2 separate regions of the Homo sapiens genome follow, and region 2 is linked to region 1. Evidence: fine-mapped expression QTL. A gene starts in region 1. The other region holds a variant in brackets. All regions are shown on one strand. Distances are between the middles of the regions. Region 1 holds the start of NGLY1 (N-glycanase 1). Region 2 has its middle 360 kb from the start of LINC00692.

Region 1 (11,836 bases):
ATGATTCATTCGAGTCACCAAAACAGTAATTCAATGAAAAATATAAAGGCACCTCCAGCCTGATTTGAGCTGCAGGAAGCATCCTTTGTCAGGATTACTGATAACTTCTTCTAAATAGCATTTCTGGTGTCAGTGGCACAGAAAACACATTTCAGGGCATATTCTTTTAAGTAAGTAAGTGGGCTTTATCAATCTTCAGTACTTAAGGATAACCAGCCTTTTCAAAACGCTACCCAGGGCCAAGAGCCCTAGACTGAGCGTCTGGATACATGGGTTGGCAATACACTCTGTGACCAAGCTTGCGATGGGGGAAGGGGACAAGTCTTTCCACTCCTCTAAACTTCTCCAATTGAATCATTGGTGGAAGGAGGGGTTACGACTAGTGGATCACTTCAAGGGTACTACGAAGGCCAGGGGCGGGAGTAAAAGAGTGTAGCCATTCCCTGTATCGCCTCTCAGGCACCACCACACATGTACACAGCCCGAAGAAGCATGGCGAGAGAAAAAGAAATCAGGCCCCAGGTCCTCGGACTCCCCTCTCGAAATTCAACCCCGACTTGATTTGAATGTAAAGGAGGAAAGGAGGGGCGAAGGAGGAGGGTAGCCAGCGATACCTGTAACGGGGCTACCCCGGACACTTCTCCACAGTCGGGGGCGATGACGCTCTCGAGCGCACGCGCACACGCACGTACGCTCATGCGCGCTCGCACGTACGCTCATGCGCTTTCCCACGCACGCGTCCCGTTCGACTCTCTTTCCGCCGGTTGACTTTAAGCCGCGTCACCTTGGCTGAGGTCAGACCGTGGGAGGCGGCTGGGTAGCTGTTTGCGTGAGCAGAGACGCCCCTCTCGGAACCTCAGTGACTCGCCGATAATCGAGGACCTGCCAATAACGCGATGAGGTAGCATTTTCACCCATCAAAAAGGCATTTTTCTTTGGCAGTGATAATGCCCAAATATTCCCTTTTGTCGGAGAAGGGACACCATCGTATTCTACTGGAATTGTAAGAAAGAATTAAGGAAATTCTCTGCAGTTTCAAAGTTATTGCTATAGCTCGCAACGTTATTAGTAATTGTGAGTAAAGTGGAATTAACCAAAATGGCCAACATCAGGAAATTTGTTGTGTATCTTGTGGTACATCCAAATGCCATGCAGCCGTTTAAAATAATTCTGCAGGTGAATATTTATTAATGAGATGTTGCGACTATTTGTTAGGAGACATAGTTACAAAACAGTATATATCCGTTTTTTCAAAAATAATTCTTTAAAGGTCTGCAAGATGTATACTGATTGTGATCTTTCCCTCCTTATTTTTGCTTAGCTTTATTTAATAAAGCTTTTCTACAATAAACAAATGTTTTTGTAATAAAGTTTTTACTTTTTAAAAGTTGTCACCAGGCTGTTCTGCCTATGGAGTAGTCATTCTTTGTTCCTTTACTTTCCTAATAAACTTCCTTTCACTTAAAAAAAAATTATCACCAGATTTGAGACAGTGCTCAAAAATTGTCTCCATTGTCACAATGGAGACATTTGTTTCTAAGTGTGAAAAATTCATTAACTGTTTGCTTAGAGCTGACTGCAAACCGATAAAGGGAAAATATAACATGAAAATGTAAAAAAGCAAGAAGTCGACAAGATGGTATTCATCGAACATCTGTTTTTCACATGCTATCCCAGGCGTGAGTTTTGTCCTTGCTCTTCTTTAGAAAAATGGTTGAGCATAGAATCTTCATCTGGACCTTCTAGTCATATTTATGGTTTTTTCTGGGCAATGCCTCTTGAAGCCATTGTTTCCAAGTAGAGTGCTCTGCATTCTTTCCTACCCCTACAGAAGAATGTGAGTCAAGCTTAGCTTTCCAGGTTGGTCCTGGATTTAAATGAGTTTGGAAATCTATTTTGTTTAAAATAATTCAGCAAAGCTCAGTTTGACCTTCGTCCCAGGCCTAACCAGTCACCTCTAGTTGATCCTCATTCAGTGACAAAGTAGAGTTTCTTGAAGAATTAAAACAAACACATGTGGTTATAAAGTAACACTTGATGAGTAAGTACCTAAACTTGATCTCTTTTCATTGCTGTCTTTAAAATAATAGTGTGAAAATACCTACAATATTTTCTCTGAAGCTGAACTCATAAGAAACATACAGTTTTAATGTGCTATTTCTTTTGTAATATCACAAAATCGTCTTGGCTAAGAGGTGACAAAATCTTTCAGAAAAATAAAAAGACCATCATTTTTGTATCTACCTCTTATCACCTTTTCTTTGATCTGGAAAAGGGTGGGAAATTTTATGATATTTAATGGCTTTACATATTTGGTACCATATTTCCTGCTACAATTCCATCGTGTCTTCTTGCACCAAAATCTTCAAATGGGCTCTGCTTATCCTACCCTCCTATTAAGACTTCCTAGGTTTGCCTTAAATTCTTTGTAATCTGATTCAAAACTATCTTTCCAATTATGGCTCCCATTCTCTATTAAATGAGCTTGCCACCCAGCAAACTGATTTTCTCACTATACATGTCTTGATTGACCCTAACTTTTCTCATCTCTGTGCTTTTGCTATTTTCAACAACCACTCATTTTCTTCCTATCAATGCTTGAAGTTTGAATGCAAAAATGAGTAGAGGTATGGCTCTTGCTTTCAAGAAGTTTATGGTCTAGTAAAGGGAGACACCCATAGAAACAAGTAAGTGCAAACTGTTGAAACAGGTGCTATAGTGGAATTATTATAACACAAAAGGGACAATGAGGTCTGTGCTACCTCGTAAAGTCAGAAAAGGCTTCAGAGAAATGATCCTTGAACTGCATCTTGGAAATGAATGTTTGTCTAGTAAATTGGGTGGGAAAGGGCATCCTGGCAGGAGGAGAACAAAGGCCTGGAGAAATGAAGTGTCATGGTATCTTCCACAAACAGCTAAATATGTGGCCCATGTCAAATTTGAAGTGTGGGACAAAGCAACAGTAAACGCATGAGAGTAAGGCAGGGCCCAGATCACAAAAGCCTGGGGTATCATACTGAGGACTTTGGATTTAATCCCGTAGTTCAGAGACCATATGCTAGCCTTCATGGTATAATTTGGAGTGCAACATTCTTTTATTGATTCTAAACTCCTCTAGAAAGGACATGGTAAACTCTCTCATTCCCTTCACTGGAGTCTCTCTTACTCCTCTTTGTCTTGAACAAAGCCACTTAAAATATTTAACTTACCAGCCTGGTTCCTGACACCATTTGACTTTAGAATGTGGATAGAGGGAGCCATAGAAAACTTTTTACCAGGAGAACAACATGATCAGATGGGTGCTTTAGAAAGATCACTATTGCACAAATGAGCAGGGTGGGTTGGAAGGATGTGGAAATGGACACAGGGAAGAAAGTTAAGAATGGATGAAACACGAGGCTCTGAAGGCAATGGCAAGGAGAGATCCAGGAGATGTTGAGAAGGAAACGTTACTAGGATATTGTACATGATTTAAGGAGGGTGGGGAGTCTCTCACAGGTAGCAAGTCCTCTCCTTTCTCACCTTCTCAACCTCTCAATTTAAGGCTTCTGTTCAAGTTGTCCCCCCTCACTGAAACTGCAGCCCACAGTGAAATTTTCCTCCCTCTAAACTAGTAGTTCTCAAAGTTTACTGTTAATCAAAATCACCTGAAGGGCTTGTTACCACACAGATTGCTGGGTCCCACCTTTAAATGTGGAGCTTCAGAATTTGTTTTTCTGACAAGTTTCCTGCTGATGCTGCTGTTGCTTGTCCAACCACTGCTCTAAACTTATGACTTCTATGAAAGTAGGGACCATACTTGTCTCCTTCACAGTGCTGAGCAACTAGTAGTCACTTCATAAATACATGATGAATGAATGAATTATGGAATGAATAAATCAACATTTATCCTTACATTTGATAGTACACATGCACTTTTTGTGCATTTCTCACCAAATGACTTTTGCGAAAACCAATGCCATAGCATTAATATTGTGATAACAATGTACAGTCCATAAAATCATGGAAATCACCATTTTAAAAAAATCATCTGAAATTTAAGTCCTTCCAAATAACTCTTTAGCAACACTTCTGTTAAAGTTCTTGAGTAACTGTAATCTCTTTTGAATATTGCCATTTATAAAGCTATTAAGGGAATCCATTATATAAAGGGACTTGGTCTCTCATTTTCCTGGCTGCTTCCCCCACTTCAGTCAAGTTGGAGATATTCTAATTCTTCCATTTCCTTTAGAAAAGCTGAATAAGCTACCCTAACTTTTATACCCATCGTTGTTTCAAACAACCAAAGAATGGGTACTAAATCAGCATTGAAATTCTTGTTCTTTTATTTATTTATTTTTGTTCCAAAATAAAGATTTTTTTTTTCCCCAGGATTTCACCTTTATTAAAAACATCATTTTTAGAGTTGACATATCATGGCGCTATTCTTTTTTTTTTTTGAGGTAGAGTCCCGCTCTGTCACCCAGGCTGGAGTGCAGTAGGGCAACCTCAGCTCACTGCAACCTCTGCCTCCTGGGTTCAAGCGATTCTCCTGCCTCTCAGCCTCCCAAGTAGCTGGGACTCCAGGTGTGCACTAACACGCCTGGCTAACACTATTCTTTAATAAAACAAAAAAGAAAGAACTCTGTAAATTTTCCCCACGATTGGTTTGGTGATATTAAAAAGTTAACCTCCATAAAAACCATTAGCAAGGGGAGGAGTTGAAGTCTTTCAGGAATTTGTATAGTGATTCACTATTGTGTGACTACATTGAGTGATTAACCAACAACTCTATTCAGTACCTGCTGTGTGCAAAGCAGTCTGAGACAGATGGCACAAGAGACTTTTAATCAAATAGGGAAGACAAAACTAATGATAACTTACAGTGAGATAGCGTTTTAGTTGAGGAAACAAACTATTATGAAGAGAAAAACAAAAGTCATTTTGTTCCCCCACAAAAGTACCCTATGACCATTCTATCTGTCAGGGGAAAGCCTTAGCTGACAGCTTTCTGCCCTTCACTTGACACCTCTGCTTCAATACCAGAGCATTTCCACTTTGGTGTTTTGTATATAGACAATCTTCCTATGTTTTTGTTTTTGTTTTTTTTTTGTAGAGATGGGGTCTTGCCATGTTGCCCAGGCTGGTCTTGAACTCCTGGGCTCAAGCGATCCACCTACCTCGGCCTCCCAAAGTATTGGGATTACAGGCGTGAGCCACCATGTCCAGCCCCTAAAATTTTATTTGAAAAAAAAAAAAAAGTTCTGTTGCATTTTTAAAAGTTACAAGTACTGTATAATATATACTATTCTCATATAATTAGTAAAGGATAAATAAATGTATCAATGGAAAAAGAAACCCAAATTAAGAGGAATAAAGTTTGTGATAGCTATATCTCCAGACCCAAGCCCCCAATCCATTGTGTAGTTGGACGAGACTACATTTCCCAGACTCTCCCCTTTTATCTTTTTATGTGTTTTTAAATTTTTTTTTTATTTTTTGTAAATCTGGCCTTACTGAAATACCCCCTTTTATCTTGATGAGGCCTCATTCTTAGTAATGATATGGTAGAGAAAATGCTGTGTGTCATTTCTGGGCTCATGTGGTTAAAAGTAGGTGTGACTTTTTTTTTTTTTTTTTTTTTTTTGTCCAAGCAGGCTGCCTGGATTTGTAAATAAAATTTCACTAGAACATAACCATGCCCATTTATTTTCAAGTATTGTCTGTGGAGCAACAGCTGCAGAGGCAGAGTTAAATAGTTGAGACAGACCTTATGGCTCACAAAGCCTAAAACACTATGTGGCCCTTTACAGAAAATGTTTCTTGACCCCTGTTCTAAGGTATGGAAGGAGACTGGGTCCACTGACATTATGACACCTGCATTATTAAAGTGTTATATGAGCCAGAAAGAAATTACTCTTGTGTTAAGCCCCTGAAAATTTTAGTTACAGACGGTAGTAACATACTACTATCTGTTGAACACACCATACTTGGAAGGTGGTCCAAAGATTTACATATTTATTAAAAGCGTACGTATATTTGGGAGACGAATAGTCATTGAACTGGATGTCATAGCTTAGGGTCTTGTTCGGAGATTCTGGAAGAAAATTTCAATTCTTAAAAGTAAACAGATGAAACATCAAGAAATTTAAAAGAGGTTATTCAGGCAAATCACTTATCTTAAGAAATAAAGTCAAGAAAAATACTTCGTGAGGTTGAAAAGGAATTTCTGCAAAGAAGGAAGCCACTGGTAAAGTACACTTTCAAGAACATGGTGGGGAAGAGACTGGATTAAAGTAGTAAGGGATGCATCTTCTAAGAGGAATAAAAGACCTTGATCACATGATCTACCTAAAAAACAAGTCACAAAATATTACTTACCCTTACTGTGTGGGATGCAAATTTTTATTCCCTTCCCGCCCCCGACATTCTATAATATTGCGTAATTATTATGCATGTGTTTTACGCTGGTCACCACGCGGTAAACCGAATCCACAACCCATTATTATGTCGCAACCTATGGTTTAAAAATACACTTCCTTACAGAGGAATCATATACTAGTTGAGCTGGAACTTAGATTTTCAGTCATTAGCCAAATTCTGAAAAGAATCCATATAACAAACCCAGCAGAGTTTATAGCCATGGTTTTGTTTTTGACGTTTGTTGCTCCTTCCTTCTGTAGTCTTTCATCCACATCTATGTAGAACGTCCTGACAATCTGCGAAGAGAAGGCTCTAAGGTGGTTTTATTTGTGGGGAAAGGAGGGAGGTACATGCGGTTTCTCCACCTTAATAGCTGGATCAATTAGGCTGGCCCCGGAGCGCAAAGGGATCCGGGTTTCTGAGAGGCACGTGCCAGCACCATTCGCCCGATACCTCTAGACCAAAGCCGGCCTCCCCTCCAGCCGAGCTCCTCCGTCCTAAAGGACTCGACATCCCCCTCCTCCAGGCCCACACCCCTCAGCCCCGGAGCCCAGGCCCCGCCTCTCCCTGCGGAACCCCTTCCCAACCTGTACGACCAGGCCCCAACTCTGGGTCGAAGCACCTCGCCCCTGCCGGCCGAGGCCCCCCACCTTCTTCCGAACAGCCCCTTGCCCCCCGCGAAGGGGCAGCCGTAGCTCCCAGCCGAGCTCCCCCGCTCCTGGCCCCGGTCCCCGACCCCGCCCCAGGCCCCCGACCCCGCCCCTGCCGGCCGAAGACCCCGCCCCTGCCGGCCGAGGACCCCGCCCCTGCCGGCCGAGGACCCCGCCCCTGCCGGCCGAGGACCCCGCCCCTGCCGGCCGAGGACCCCGCCCCTGCCGGTGGCTGCGGTAGCTGCTGCGCGCTGAGGCGCCTGCTCAGTGTGGGACGCGGAGAGCGAGGGGCGGCGGCGGCGCCCGCTGGCGCTCAAGCATGGCGGCGGCGGCATTGGGCAGCTCCTCAGGCTCGGCGTCCCCGGCCGTGGCTGAGCTCTGCCAGAACACCCCGGAGACCTTTTTGGAGGCCTCCAAGCTGCTGCTCACCTATGCTGACAACATCCTCAGGTGCAGGGCAACGGGGTCGGACGGCGGGTACCGGGGTGGGTGGGCCGCGGCACCTTGTTCGGCCAGGGACTGGGGCGTCCGGCCTGAGCTTCAGAGGGCAGCGACGCCCGGACAGACCGGGACCTGGAGCTGGTTCTGCTCCTAACGTCCGAGCCCGCCGGCCAGGGGCCTCGGGACCCGGCCAAGTCCCACCCCCGCTCGAGAAAAGGAAGTTTCTTTGCAGTTGTGACTTGGCACCTGCAGTCAGGGTGCTGCGGGTGAACTGGAGTCCCGGAAGCGGGGCCGGGCGGAGGAGAGGTAGGAAGGCGTGCTTCAGACACTGCCGCTCTTCTCGTCGTTTAACGGCCTCAGATATCGGGACACAACGGTAACCGCACCGCGCGTGTCATTCCCCCTGCGTGCATTTTTCGAGCGGAGTGGCTTACATTTCCACATACTTATCAGAAGTTACTCACTGACAAAGTGATGTTTTCTTCCCATGTTGAGACTATCCGAGTACTAAAGCATAATGCTTCTGAAGTGGTGGGTTTTAAAATTTTTAATTTTTTTTCTGCCCACTTTTGTTGATTGAAACATTATAGTATTTTGAAGTTACAGTTTTTATATTAATACCTGGATTCTACTATGTAACATAACCCTTTAAGAATTCGTGGAGGTAATCGCCTTGGATGAGAGTAATTTCCTTCATTCTCCTGTCAGCAAAATTGCACTTCTAGAGGTCTAAGGGACCTTGCAGATTTTGGGAATTGGGAGGCAAGTTTGATTATTCATTTTGAATAAGTACCCACCTCAACTCTTCAGATCAAATGATCTGAAGGGACATGGTGTGGGGGGGTAGGGAAATGGAACTGAGGTTAAAGGAGAGCCACTTGCTTTAGGGGTGTTACCTCATTTATCAGGTCACCGTGATTAATTAGGTTCTCTGTTCCCCTCAGCCCCTGGTGCATTAAGTGTTTGGTATATTGTCATGAAGTCTAAAAGGAAATTCTCAGTTTCAAGGTTATAGGTTTCACGTGACCCAATTTTAGACATTAGTTACATGTGCAGTTTTTAAAATCCATGTCAGTAATATTTCATTTAGGCAATGGTAATGATTTTTAAAGTAAATTGAAGGGAAAATATATTGAGCCCTTATTTTGTGGCAGATGCTATGAAAGATGCAACATGTGGCCTGTTCACAGCTACATAATTGTGACCTGTGTGGGGACCACCTTCGTGCTCTGTGACACCTTCTCAACTCACCTTTTTTACTCTTTGAGGCCTTACAGCTCTTCACAGTACAAGGATGCCAAGGGACTCCATAAATGAACTGATAGGCTGGGTTCTCCAGAGCCCATTAGCTGAGACTTACCACCTGGAAAGCCACCAGGCTATTTAAAACCCCACTAGTCAGAAAAGAGAGGTGGCCTTGTAATGAAGCCTCACTTCTGCTTTAAATCTAGTGAAACCCAAAATGCTGAGGTTTAGTATGAGGGGGAAACCTTTGCATGCAAATAATGACATTTAGCATCATAATCTTCATTATGAATGTTTACTAATGGCTCGTTGCTGATTTTCGTTTTTGAGACGGAGTTTGCTCTTGTTGATGAGGCTGGAGTGCAGTGGCGCGATCTTGACTCACTGCAACCTCCGCCTCACAGCTTCAAGATTCTGAAAGATGAGGGGTGTGACAATGAGCGCAAAGGATAGTGGACACACTGGAATAATGCTGAGAAATTAAGAGTTTAAGAAAGTCTTTGTGCGTTGCTTTTCCAAGGATAGGAAAGAGGATATGATGGGTTTGAAGTCTAATGTCCCTACAGCCCTCTAAGTCTTTGAGGGCTTTAGGGTCAGGCCTTTGGTATCAGTCTATACACAAAACCACGGTCAGTTTACTCAACATACTTAATAAGAAAAAGAATTTGAGGAACTGGATGTGACTGTCATTGCTGGAGCCTGTTTGCAGTATACTTTTACTGAGAAAAATAGATTAATGTGAGGTCCAGAGATGATATAAAAATAAAATTGCTCACTGGGCACGGTGGCTCACACCTGTAACCCCAGCACTGTGGGAGGCCAAGGTGGGCGGATTGCTTGAGCTTAGGAGTTTGAGACCAGCCTGGGCAACATGGCTAAACCCCGTCTCTACAAAAAAATTAAAAAATTAGCCAAGCGTGGTGGCAGACACCTGTAGTCCCAGCTACTTGGAGGGCAGAGGTGGGAGGATGGCTTGAGCCCATAATCATGCCACTGCATTCTAGCTTTGATGGCGAAGTGAGACCTTTCTCAAAAAAGAAAAAAAAAATGCTCACTAGAAACTAAAGAGGAAAATCTATATTGTATATCAATAGTTAAATGGTAACAACATATATCAAAATAACAAAGGCCAGTCGAAGTGGCTCCAACCTGTAGTACCAGGGCTTTAGGACACCCCAGGTAGAAGGATTGCAGCCGGGGCAACACAGTGAGACCCCATCTCTTAATAAAAAAAAAAAATAGCCAGGCGTGGTGGCTCACCTGTAGTCCTAGCTACTTCAGAGGCTGAGGCAGAGGATTGTTGAGCCCAGGAGTTCTAAGCAGCAATGAGCTTTGATGGCGTCATTGCACTCTAGCCGGGGTGACAGAGCAACACTTTGTTTTTTAAAAAACAAAACAAAAACTATATGAGAACTGATGTGTATTTTATAAGAATTTTTAAACAATTGTGAAAGCAGGAAGAAACTAGAAAATTAGCCCAGAGAAAGACCCAGCATGTAGAGATCTGAAAGCTGTGAGGAAAAGAATAGATTAAAATAGCTCAAGCAGTTTTGAACCAGTAGGATATATCATCCTGGTGGTACTGACATGTTTATCACCCTGTGAAATACATTGAGTGTCAGGAAAAGATGCCCCATTTATCGAAAACTAGCTTTGATAAATGTAGGATTATTTTATAGTTCAGTTTTCTTAAGTGATAAGAAAGAGAGGCTCACTTGTGAGACAGTGTAGCATGGAAGCCAGGAATGCGAATGTTCTGCAGTGCACAAGGAAACTCCACTGAGAAAAGGCCCCACATGTTAATGGTGCTGAGACTGAGAAACCCTAATCTAATACACAGAATAAAGAGTTGAGAATAAAATTTTCTTTGTATTTCACAACCATCTGTGATTCTCAAATTACATATAGTAAAGAACAATGTTTTTGTTTTAATTTCCAATCCCTTATGGACCTATAACTTTTGTAAAATACACTGAAAATTTCATGGCAATATCAAATTGCTGTATACCGAACATTCAATTTCTCTACTTCTTGCTTCATTTTTATGCACTTGTAAACAAACAAAGAAAAAATTTCTGTACTACTTGTGTATGGGTAACAAATAATTTGTAGATTAGCACCAATCTGTGGACATTTTGAATAGCAAAAAAAATAGAGCATTTGTCTCTGAATATTCTGTAATAAACATGATTTTTGAAATTAGGGAAAAGTTTAAAAACATTCATTTAGTATTTATGACACTTTGGCCAATAGGCAATTGACTGGTGAAAAACAAATGCAAAATTTGTTAAAACTTATAAAATTAAAATATTTGGTTTTTGGTTTTGTTTTTACGTCAGAATACCTAGAGAACATGTGTAGATAGGACAAAGTTGATAAGTCATTTGCTAGCATTTGCCTACTCACCATATCATACCCCAGGGCAGGTGGCTTCTTATGGAAGTACATCTTCCTATGGATCCCAGATACTGCCTCAGAATCCTCCTTAACATAGTACTTAAAGAAGTCACTATCACTTTAAGGCAGTTGGTGTCAGGTATGAAACTTATCATCCTAAACTATGTTCTGAGGGTCTTTTGAATATAATACTATGATTAGCTTAACCTTACATTCTTTTAATTTTTTTTAAACAATTCTGATTTATCAAAGTAATTAAAAATCTCAAACCAAAACTTTTCATGTGCTGGTTACTTGTCCCAAGTGTACTATTCAAAATCTTAATTATGGTAAAAGAAATTTATGTCTTCCTTTTATTGCCATACTGTCTGTGTCAAGAATATGTCTTGGGCCAGGTGCGGTGGCTCACGCCTGTAATCCCCAGCACTTTGGGAGGCTGAGGCGGGTGGATCACCTGAGGTCGAGAGTTCGAGACCAGCCTGGTCGACATGGTGAAACCCTGTCTCTACTTAAAAAATGCAAAATTAGCCAGGAGTGGTGGTGCACCCCTGTAATCCTAGCTACTTGGGAGGCTGAGGTGGGAGAATTGCTTGAACCTGGGAGGTGGAGGCTGTAGTGAGCCGAGGTCACGCCACTGCACTCCAGCTTGGGAAACAGAGCAAGACCCCTCTCTCAAAAAAAAAAAAAAAAAAAAAAAAAAA
Region 2 (11,836 bases), 450 kb before region 1:
ACCAAGTCAATCCTAAGCCAAAAGAACAAAGCTGGAGGCATCACGCTACCTGACTTCAAACTATACTACAAGGCTACAGTAACCAAAACAGCATGGTACTGGCACCGGAACAGAACAGAGCCCTCAGAAATAACGCCACATATCTACAACTATCTGATCTTTGACAAACCTGACAAAAACAAGAAATGGGGAAAGGATTCCCTATTTAATAAATGGTGCTGGGAAAACTGGCTAGCCATATGTAGAAAGCTGAAACTGGATCCCTTCCTTACATCTTATACAAAAATTAATTCAAGATGGATTAAAGACTTAAACGTTAGACCCCAAACCATAAAAGCCCTAGAAAAAACCTAGGCATTACCATTCAGGACATAGGCATGGGCAAGGACTTCATGTCTAAAACACCAAAAGCTATGGCAACAAAAGCCAAAATTGACAAATGGGATCTAAATAAACTAAAGAGCTTCTGCACAGCAAAAGAAACTACCATCAGAGTGAACAGGCAACCTACAACATGGGAGAAAATTTTCACAACCTGCCCATCTAACAAAGGGCTAATATCCAGAATCTACAATGAACTCAAACAAATTTACAAGAAAAAAGCAAACAACCCCATCAAAAAGTGGGTGAAGGACATGAACAGACACTTCTCAAAAGAAGACATTTATGCAGCCAAAAAACACATGAAAAAATGCTCACCATCACTGGCCATCAGAGAAATGCAAATCAAAACCACAATGAGATACCATCTCACACCAGTTAGAATGGCAATCATTAAAAAGTCAGGAAACAACAGGTGCTGGAGAGGATGTGGAGTAATAGGAACACTTTTACACTGTTGGTGGGACTGTAAACTAGTTCAACCGTTGTGGAAGTCAGTGTGGCGATTCCTCAGGGGCCTAGAACTAGAAATACGATTTGACCCAGCCATCCCATTACTGGGTATATACCCAAAGGACTATAAATCATGCTGCTATAAAGACACATGCACACATATGTTTATTGTGGCACTATTCACAATAGCAAAGACTTGGAACCAACCCAAATGTCCAACAATGATAGACTGGATTAAGAAAATGGGGCACATATACACCATGGAATACTATGCAGCCATAAAAAATGATGAGTTCATGTCCTTTGTAGGGACATGGGTGAAATTGGAAATCATCATTCTCAGTAAACTATCGCAAGGACAAAAAACCAAACACCGCATGTTCTCACTCATAGGTGGGAATTGAACAATGAGAACACATGGATACAGGAAGGGGAACATCACACTCAGGGGACTGTTGTGGGGTTGGGGGAGGGGGAAGGGATAGCTTTAGGAGATATACTTAATGCTAAATGACGAGTTAATGGGTGCAGCACAGCAGCATGGCACATGTATACATACGTAACTAACCTGCACATTGTGCACATGTACCCTAGAACTTAAAGTATAATAATAATAAAATAAAATTTAAGAAAAAAAAATTTAAAAAAAAAGAAGAAGAAATAGGAGTAGAAGAAGACCCAGCTAATGGTTTTAGCTTTGCCCCAACAATTTGATTCATTTTTATTAGTCATCTCTTTATTCTTGGTTTTCTCAACTGTAAAATTAGTGAGTTAGATGATCCTGCCAACTAGACCACTTCTTTCTTTCTGATATATCCTACAGTCCAGTGTCAAGAGGCTGTGATGTTGGTTGGTGCCACAGGACAACTCTTAATCCTACTTAATCTAATTTAAATAAGTGCTGAGCACTTCTTTTGGCAACTCCAAATCAACCTGGTCAGGAGAAACTCTACATGCAACTCAGCAATCTATCTGCATAGAAAAGAATCATTATTCCCTGCTTTAATGTTTGACCATATTCTTCACAAGAACTGCTGCATGATCATATCTGAATTTCACTGTTTAATTATCTATCTTCTTATCCTTCAACCTAGACATAGAAATCATCTTGGGCCACATATTAGTCTGTTTTCATGCTGCTATAAAGCACTTACTAAAACTGGGTAACATATAAACAAAACAGGTTTAATTGACTCACAGTTCCACATGACTGAGGAGGCCTCCAGAAACTTACAATCATGATGGAAGGCAAAGGGGAAGCAAGTCACAACTTACATGGTGACAGGAGAGAGAGAGACATTCAGGTGGTGAACTGCCAAACACTTTTAAACCATCAGAACTCATGAGAACTCACTCACTATTATGAGAACAACATGGGGGAGACCGCCCCCATGAGTCAATCACCTCTCACCAAGTTCCTCCCTGGATATATGGGGATTACAATTCGAGATGAGATTTGGGTGGGGACACAAGCCACATTGCACAGATTATCTTGTTACTTTTGCCATTGTCTTGGGTCCTGGCAATCTGTATCTCTTCTTCCACTGGCCCCCTAAACTTGCCTATGATAAAGTTGGAATCCTCTTGTCTTAAGTAATCTTTCTCAGTATTAATTATTTTTAGCTTGTTTTGTAGTTGTTAAAGCAACTTCAACACTGGCATATGAATTCAATTCAAAGCATTGAACCCTTGTGCCACATAGTTCTATACCTACCTGTAGTCCAACAGCCTGGATAACCTCTAAGGCCTTTTCAAGTAATAACATTCTATGATGTCATGGTGCTGTAGCAGTTGTATTAAACATAAAACATTCAGTGAAAGAGACATGCTGGGCTGCAGTTAAAAGACTAGATCATGAGCAGATTTTCAAAAATCGTCATTCACCGGGGCAAAATGGTTTCAGGTTTTCCAACCAGAAATAACTGCATAATACCACTATTATAAAACAGTGGTATACCACTTCATACCTATAAAAATATAGGTACGAAGCCCTATACTCTCAGAATATACAAAAAGCACATCTGTGCTCTATTGTAGGTGAATTATAGAATGATGGGAAGTGCCTAGGATCCCAAGCAATTTTCTCTATTTCCTAAAAATGAGTGGGAGTCCGTATGTACTTTTCTTGTGATGTGTTAATTACCATGACTAATACTTCACCAAACCTTCTCTTTTTCTCTTGGTTGTGGGGGTAGGGTGGGGGTGGTGAGATGCTTTTGAAAAAAACACATCAGAACAAATACATCCAAATTAATGGACTTCCTCAAAGGGCACGCCCTTCGCCTAACAATGCCAACAGGCATGCAAACTCCTCTGAGCTGTACCTTGGGAAACACTTTCAATGCCAGTTTTTTAAGAACATTTTTAAAAATGTCATATCACTTTATGTACGTATACTGTATATTTGGAGAAGAAAAGTCAACTTGATTGATTACCCAGCTCACTGAGCCATTTAGGTTAGCAGGCTTTACCATGAAACACTTGGGGATTTTTTTCTAGAAACCACAGTGACCCACAAAGTCTTATAATCATGACCCATAAATCTTACAGACATTTACACACTGTGCCAAAAGCTGAGGAGGAAAACCTAAAAAAGAAGTTTCAAAGATGTTTTTGTTAGTGACAACATCAATTACAATATGTTTATGGTCTCTTAAGATAAAATATTTTTAAGGTGTTATACTCATTAGGAAGTATAACTTCTGGCCTGCATGTTGTATGTATATTATTTTTTATTTAGCCACCACTCATCTATATATCTTTATAACACTTTATTTCAGAAATAATTTAAAACAGTTTATAAGGAGACATTAAAATACAAGAAATAGCAAAAATTAAAAGTGAAGCAAAAGAAGTACTAAAAAGAAAATCACATTAAGGACATAAATAGAGAACAGGAATGAAGTTTACAATGCACATCATAGTGTGAACTTATGACCCAAAATGTGGCAGGTAGCCAATGGGAAAAAGAAAACCAGGTCAGCTACACAATTCACAATGTTCGGAAGAAAGGAAGCAATTCAACTGCTCAGGGAGAATTGTGTAACTTACAGGATTTCCTTTTCCCATTAACCCATAGGCAGATCCAGTCAAGCTTTTCCTCAGAAAATGGTTTTGAATAAATTCTATGTCCTGGGTGGCTCGGTGAATGAGACCCCAAATTCTGTTCCACGTTGAATACTTCATGGAATATAGCTGTAATACTCATAGCTTTAACATTTTTGAGGCATGTGTAATAAGACACTTGCCTTTATCAAAATAAGATTTTAACAAAGAATATCTAACTTTGAATAATGTTTATTCCTCCAAGAAAAAAATATATTTGCAAATATCTCCTAAAGTTACTTGATTAGGCCACTGTTTGGTGGGATTAGTATGTAATAAATCATCAAAGTTTAAAGAATGCCATCCAAAATATATTTTATCATAGAATAGTTGATATACCTTCTCTTTAAGAAATATATTCGGCTAGTTTACTTTTTTAATGGTTGCAGTATCTTATCACATTCCTCTGAAGATATCAGTTATATTCACATACATGTTCAAAGAGGCTTGTACATGGGTCATCTTTGCACATTGCATATAATAAGGCAAAATTGGAAAGTGCTTAAATGTCCTTCAACAAGGTAAGGGTTAAACACTATATGACACATCCTAGAACACTATGCACATACTAAAATGAATAAGGTGCAGTTAAATTGAGTCTTATGAGAAGATTCTAAAACATATTTGCATTCCTTTTCTGTTTGCTTTATTAATTCTGACCTTTGCTGGTCATTTTTCTATTTGTTGATTCTGATGGCTTTTTTCATAATGTTAGTTTTTCCAACAACTTAATGACTCTTGGTAGTGTGTATCTTTTATTTTGAGATTCTCTATTAGCCTATCTGAGAATACTATACAGTTGACCCTTCATATCTATGGGTTCCACATCTGTAGACTGAACCATTACAGATGGAAAATATTCTAGATAAATAATACAAATAAAAAATAATACAGTATAATAACTATTTACATAGCATTTACATTTTATTATTTGTAAGTAATCTAGAAACTATTCAACTTGTACTGGAGGATATATGTAGGTTATATGCAAATATGCTATTTTACATAAGAGAGTTGAACATATATGGATTTTGGTATCCATAGGAATCCTAGAACCAATCCCCCAGTGGATAGTAAGGGACAACTGTATTTGTCACTATTCATTATAGGGAGAGAACATGCTGCTTCGTAAGACAGGCCTATCTTATTAGTATTAGGACCCTCCCTGGCATATGATATCAACAACCTGGGGCACTGTCCTTTCTCTGAGGCCCGAGTCTCATTCATTGTCTCTGCAGGGGGAAACATTTCTGCTGTCTGTCGCTTGGCACAATTGAGAGGAGCAAATATTGCTGGTTCTCACAGCTTCTCCTTCTGTAGAACCTCACACAGTCATTCTGAGAATTGTTCCAGAGCCTCTTTCTCCTCTGTTGGCAACTCCTGATTTTGAACCTCCCTGACACTGCTCCTATTTTGTGTAGAAAAACTACGCTGTTCATGTTTTAGACAGTCGGTTTGCTATTCCAATCCAATCTGAACTAATTACTTCAGGGATTTCTTATAACATACATCCATCCATCTACAGGATCTGTTCTGGTTTTTCAGCATTGTTACAGATTTTAGTTTTAAAATCTATGCTTGTATTATTTCTAGGAATTTGAAGTGGGAATAGAGGCAGGTATGTTTTTTCAGTCCCCTCTTGCTCTCTTTTTCATAAATATCCAATTGAAACTTCCATGGGGACTGGGTTGATAGAATAGATTAATTTAAGAAGCATTTGCATTCTTACCGATTCTTCCAATACATGAACAATTATTTCTATTTCCCCATGTATTTTCCTTATAAAATGTTATAATTCTACTCACATAGGTCTTAGACACTTTTTATTAATTATTCCTAGGTATTTTGTTCTTTTGTTACTATTGTGAATGAGATCTCCTTTTTCATTAAAATTTCTAACCAACTCCTATTGGTATATTAGGAAAGCTATTGATTTTGATATACTCATTTTGTAACTGACCACCTTGCTTAGCATTTTTATTTTTTCTAACAGTTTTTAAATTGATTCTCTTAGAGTTGCCAGGCAGATGGTCATGGGACAATGTGAAATATGTGTATCAGTATTTTCATTTCAATATTGTTTGCTGTACAGAAAAGTAGAAAATAATATTAATCTCCATCAACAGGAAAATAAGAAATAGATTAAATAAATTATGATGCTTACAGATGATAAAGCACCAAGCAACCTTTGAAAGCAAACATATGTGGAAAGAAATCCACATGTGAAAAGAAAAAATAAAAGGATACCAGATAGCATAAGTATTTTAA[C/T]CCAATTTCCTCATTCTTACATAAGACTCTTTATGTGTATGTTGTGTATATGCAAAGAAAGAAAAAGAAAGAAAGAAAGGAAGGAAGGAAGGAAGGAAGGAAGGAAGGAAGGAAGGAAGGAAGGAAGGAAGGAAAGAAGGAAACAAGGAAAGAAAAAAGAAAAAGTTTAACAGTTATATAACCAAATATTTAAAATGGTTAGATTTTGTTTGCCTAAAAGACCTGCAATGACAATGTCCTACTTTTTTGTAATAAGAAGAAAATAAGCCAGGCATGGTGGTTCATGCCTGTAATCCCAGCACTTGGGAGGCTGAGGCAGGTGGATTGCTTGAGCTCAGGAGTTCAAGACCAGCTTGAGCAACATGGCAAAATTTTGTCTCTATAAAAAATACAAAAATTAGCCAGTCATGGTGGCATGCATGTCCCAGCTACTGGGGAGGCTGAGGTAGGAGGATCACTTGAGCCCAGAAGGTCAAGGCTTCAGTGAGCTGAGATCATGTCACAGCACTCCAGCCTCAGTGACAGAGTGAGATCTTGTCAAAAAAAAAAAAAAAAAGAAGAAGAGGAAGATGACAACAACGATGATGACAACAACGACAAAGAAGAGGAAGACAAAGTTAAAGAAGAAGAAGTAGGAGAAGACACAGAGGTGTTGTTTAAATGTATGTTGCTGGGCGGCTTATTATCATTCACAACAAACATTTTCTGACATATACCATGCTCTCCATGTGACTAGCCACACCATTCTGGCCTATGTAAACTAGTCCACGTGGTGAGATGAGTGGGTAAGCTAGCCAATTAGGGTTCTTCCACTGGAGTAGAGACTGTAAGAGAGAATGATTATAGAGTATTCTCAGAGGCTATCTTAAAAAAGATGAGCTAGACAAAGTTCAGGCTGAGGAATCAGTTTATGGAGTTTTACCATGAAGTCACATCCAATATGGATGGAGTAATTCCAGCAAGGCTGATAAATTCATGGGCATCTCAAACATTGATACTGCTCAATCTAACACTAGCTGAGTGTGTTGCATGTAAATTATTCAGGCCATGTAAACATATCCTGGTACAAGTCTTAAAATTAAATTTGGATGGGAGAAGATAACTAATTGCTAACTCTAGGATATTAGCACTCAAAAAAGCTCTCTGCTTTTAAAAATGAGGCTGATCATATGAGCAGAAATACTCCAAGAGGTACTATCCATACATTGACTATTAATCTTCATCTATGGCAAAATTTCTGATACATAAATATGGGAAGTTGAACACGTGCCTTTATTACAGTTCAATTAAAACCCCACAGAAACATAGAATGTCATGATGGGATAGTTATTTACTGGTTATTGAGTGTAGTCAAAACCAGAAAAAGTTAACATCTTGTCTACAATATACTCACGTATGGTCAGAAAAAGTCAAAACTCCTGTCATGGTAGTATAAAGGACTTTTCATTGATCCGAGGAATGTCAACAAGCATTGTATAGGGAAAAGGAGATATTCGTTAACATAATGGACAAAATCTGATTGAAGATGAAAGTTCTTCACTTCACTCTCTGTTATCATCTCTGCTGCCTTACTTTTCCCCCAACTCTGGCTTCCCTCAGTGCCTTAGGATGGCTATAGCTAATCTAGATACCATATCCAGACTTGACAACATATATATCCAAATCTCTTTCTAATGATCAAGGGAACTCACCCAGAACCCTTTAGCAGATTTATGTTCATTGAACATAATTGAGTCACATGCCCATCTCTCAGCCAGTCACAGCAAATGACATGGGATCTTCTAGATTGGTTTTGAGTAATCAAGATTCAATCTCCAAGTCTGAGGTGAGGATAGCTTTCCCTGAAGCATGTGTGCACATGGAAAAGGCAAGACATTGTGTGAAACTGTAGTTGTTTCATTAGAGGAAGATGAGGGTGGGAGGAAAGGTGGGTAGGCAACCAACAGACAACACAAAGAAACAAGTCTAAGATCACTACAGCAAGAACAGCTTACTCATAGTCCCCAGCATTTGTCCTCAGGTTTTTATCTCTGTATCTAGTTATTATTAACTGCTTCATAAGGAAGGGCACACTCTACTTCTCTAGAAATCTGAATTTCACCTAACATTTTAGGTTCAGTTGAATCCCACCTTGAGCTTATTGACCTCTCCCTAGAAGCAGTGGTCCTCTAAGGCTAACCTGACATCTGACTAAAAGATCTTGTAGAAGCCATACACTCCATTGGCTGTCCTGTTGCTCTGGGAATGTTAAGCTTCACCCTGGGCTATTGCCATGCCTCTGGCTCAAGCAGCCATATGCCTGGAGTTTCTCATTCTCTCACCTCTTCTGGAGTTGTATGAAATACCACGCTGCAAGTAAGAAGGTGTGGCATCCCAGGTTGCCACTAAAAAGGCCACATGATGTAAAGCAGAAAGTGGGGGAGAGTTATGTTCCATGAGATGTATTTGGACCAATGAGAAAATGAAGCTGGGGAGAGGGCTGGGCAAATAAATTTCACCTCCTTTATTGCTCTCATGGACTTCTCTGAGCTGGAGTTTCTCCAACCAGGCTGGAGACATCCTTTAGATTCAGTAAATACATTAGCCAAGCAAACCAGAATGTCTCCCGATGTTGATTATAAAGCAATGGTGAGCACAGCAATGCAGCATTTCATGTCACTTCACATCTTTCTTTTCTCTTTTCCTCACTCTCCTGCTCTAGACTACATCTCCCATATAAAGCCTCAGCTTTTCACCCTTTCCTCAGACTCTACTTTCCAAGAACCCAGGCTATGATAGACATTACAAAGAGCTATGGGATAGATGCCTCTCTGGACCACCCAACATTTGCTTAGCCAAAAAAGGAACATGGAACATTCTGGCTTCGGTCCCACAGGCAAAGTTTGCATAAATTATACAACAAAATGGGTATTCATTTTCTGGGTATTTTGGAAAGAAGATTTAATTTTTGTATCAACAACATAATTCATGACATCGTACATATTTACTTACAAAAATGTAAAACTATTGTATACTATGTAAAATCTATAAAGCATATAACATGACTGTACTGCAGAGGCAATATCCAAATCTTCCAAATGTACATCCTTGGCTGACTGACTGACATTTAAACAAATCATAAGACCAGTTACTTCATCCAATCAGAACTCAGCAATGCCTTGAGCCCCCAAAGTTGCTTGCTTATATCATCTATTACAACTCATGACTAAATTTTGATAGCAGGTTATGTAGAATTTTATAAGCTACAGAAATCAACTAAAAAATTGAATTGTCATGAATAATGACTGACAATAAAATAATCATAGAAATGATCATAGAGAGAATGTGACAAAGGTGGAAAATTTGAGTCAGATTAGGTAAAAATAATTTTTAATTGGTCACCTATGAATTAAGAATGCATTCTGCTTGTGTGACATTTGCCTGAAGAATTGTTCACCTAGAACCAATCCCCTCACCTTCTTCTGAGTTTCCACTGCCCTATAACTTTGCTATTTATCATGAACTGTTTTCATGCTTTTGTTCATGCTTTCCCGTCTGTCTGAGACACCTTTCCTTTTTTAGCTCTCTACTTCTAACTCAGTTCTTGTGTTACCCTCTTAAAGAGCCTGCACCATTAGGCAGTGGTTGGCATACTACATCCCATGGGCCACATTGGTCTCACCCCTGGTGTTTTAATAGCCTGACAGCTAAAAATAGTTTGTACAGATAAACATTTGCAATCAATCTGATGATGGGAAACACTATCTTTGAGTTCCAGTTAAGCAAGATGTTATCTACCTCCCAACAACAGCAATAACATAAAGTCCTTCTCCTTGATAGAATATCTGCATTACAAAAAACAATGGACTCAATTATTATTAATATACTGAATTATTTCAAAAAAATTTATGGATATTTCTTTCCTCTCTTGTTATATAAATACCTGTACAAGATCTTTGATTTTGCCTCTTGGCCCACAAAGCCTAAAATATTTACCAGCTTGCCTTTTAAAGAGAAAATCTACTAATTCCTGCTCTGGAATCATGGAGCCCAAAGCAGTCAGAAAACTTATCTATTCAGCACCTGAATATCCAGATAAAGAAACCTATGCCCAGAGAAGGAATGAGTCCTGCCTGCCCCCTGTTTTGCAGCAGCCCTAAGATGGGTCTCCCAAGCCTCTGGATGCACCATGCTCCTCCCCAACTCAGAGCTCCACAGATGTTTGTTAAGTGAAACACGATTTCTCAAAGAACATGAAAACCAGACAGTATGCCCAATCGCCATCACATATACCTCTCCTCTTCTAACTTTTTCTCCTTGTTTAATTTAATGGAAATCCAATGCTTGGCTGAAATTCAAACCTCACTCTGGCTGCAGTAAGTGCTTGAAGATGTTATGTGAGAAGCAGCTGTGAAGAAGGAGTGCAATCAGTTAAGTGTGAACAGGATTGAAAGCCTGAAAAGACTCCTACAGCCTAATAATGTCTTATTAAAAAGCTCTGGCAAGGCTGCACCAGCTTGACAGTTGGCCCTCACCTTTCATCTTTCTTTTCAAACAGCTCAGTAAAACCCATCTATCTACCTCTGTCTGAAGACCTGCCATTCCACAAGGCAGAACTTTTCACCTGGGGCACAGTGTTTACATTGGAACTCCATACATCATATTTACAAAAAAGGCCAGACACAACTGAGCAGCCTGCCTGCACATTATATTTAAATTTACTATTTTTTAAAAGAGGTCCTTTTAAAAAATACATTAAATTTGTGCTAGTAATAAAAGAGCTATTTGAACTTGTGTGATTTGTGTTTAAAGGTCATCAGCTGTATGAAACCTGTTCTGTGGAGACTGTAATGGAATGGCTGAGAGCTGAAAAATATTGAGCTGTTTTCCCTCCGTGTTTATAAAACTTATTTAAAAGCATGTTGATTATAAATACTTTTAAACTATTTACTTCTCTAGCAGTTGTGCTTGGGAAAATTAGAATCCCAACTCGCATGTTTAATGAGACAAGTCAAGTTCAGAGAGAGAGAGAGAGGGATACATACATACACATATACATACATACGGTGTTATTATTGCAAAAAAAAACACACATGATTCTCTGAGCAAATGCTTGATGATGAAGATCATGTATAGTCTAAAGCTCAGAGATAGGATTTGTAGCCAAGCACACTGTGCTTAATTTATAGGGTAAGTTTTAGAAATAATATTCACATTATGGTGGTAGTTGGCTGGGGGTTTTTTCTATGTATTCCTACCTGCATTCTTGTCACAGCCAGTCTATGGATTGTGCCTGAGACAGGATGCTTGTGAGGACAAAGCCATGGTGGTCACTCCTACTGAGCTTTTTCTTGAAACAGCTTCTTTCTTTCCAACCCATTCAGATATATTCTGTATAAATAAAATCCTCAGTAGACCATAAAAATATTGTTAGTGTTCATTTGGGAAAAAAAAAATCAAAGATCCAGAAATGTTTTGGCAGCTTAAGAAATAAAGGCATTCTATTTTAAGAGTAAAAGTAACATATGCTTCACTAATGTGTCGGAAGAAGGGAGAATGAAGGACCCGTAGAACTGAAGAGTCTGAGGAAGGAGGTGGTAAGGAGGGAAAAGCAAGAAGTATCTGTCACATTTGTCATTTTCCTACCTTT

The links. PIP is the estimated chance that this variant, and not a neighbour inherited with it, causes the effect.
Region 2: its variant is fine-mapped to the expression of NGLY1 in sun-exposed skin (GTEx, PIP 0.98).

Annotation. Positions count from the first base shown.
Region 1 is chr3:25,778,926-25,790,761 of GRCh38, reverse strand. NGLY1 (N-glycanase 1) reads left to right here and starts at 7,319. Exons shown (of 12, transcript NM_018297.4): 1 at 7,319-7,502. The coding sequence starts at 7,372. OXSM (3-oxoacyl-ACP synthase, mitochondrial) reads right to left here and starts at 672. Exons shown (of 3, transcript NM_017897.3): 1 at 615-672. RefSeq lists enhancers at 375-444, 455-524, 7,680-7,729, 7,890-7,969, 9,357-9,526 and 1 more and silencers at 627-846, 7,130-7,369.
Region 2 is chr3:26,228,700-26,240,535 of GRCh38, reverse strand. No RefSeq gene overlaps it. Among named protein-coding and RNA genes, the nearest start is that of LINC00692, 360 kb to the right of the region's middle. The variant C/T (reference allele first, on the strand shown) is at 6,208.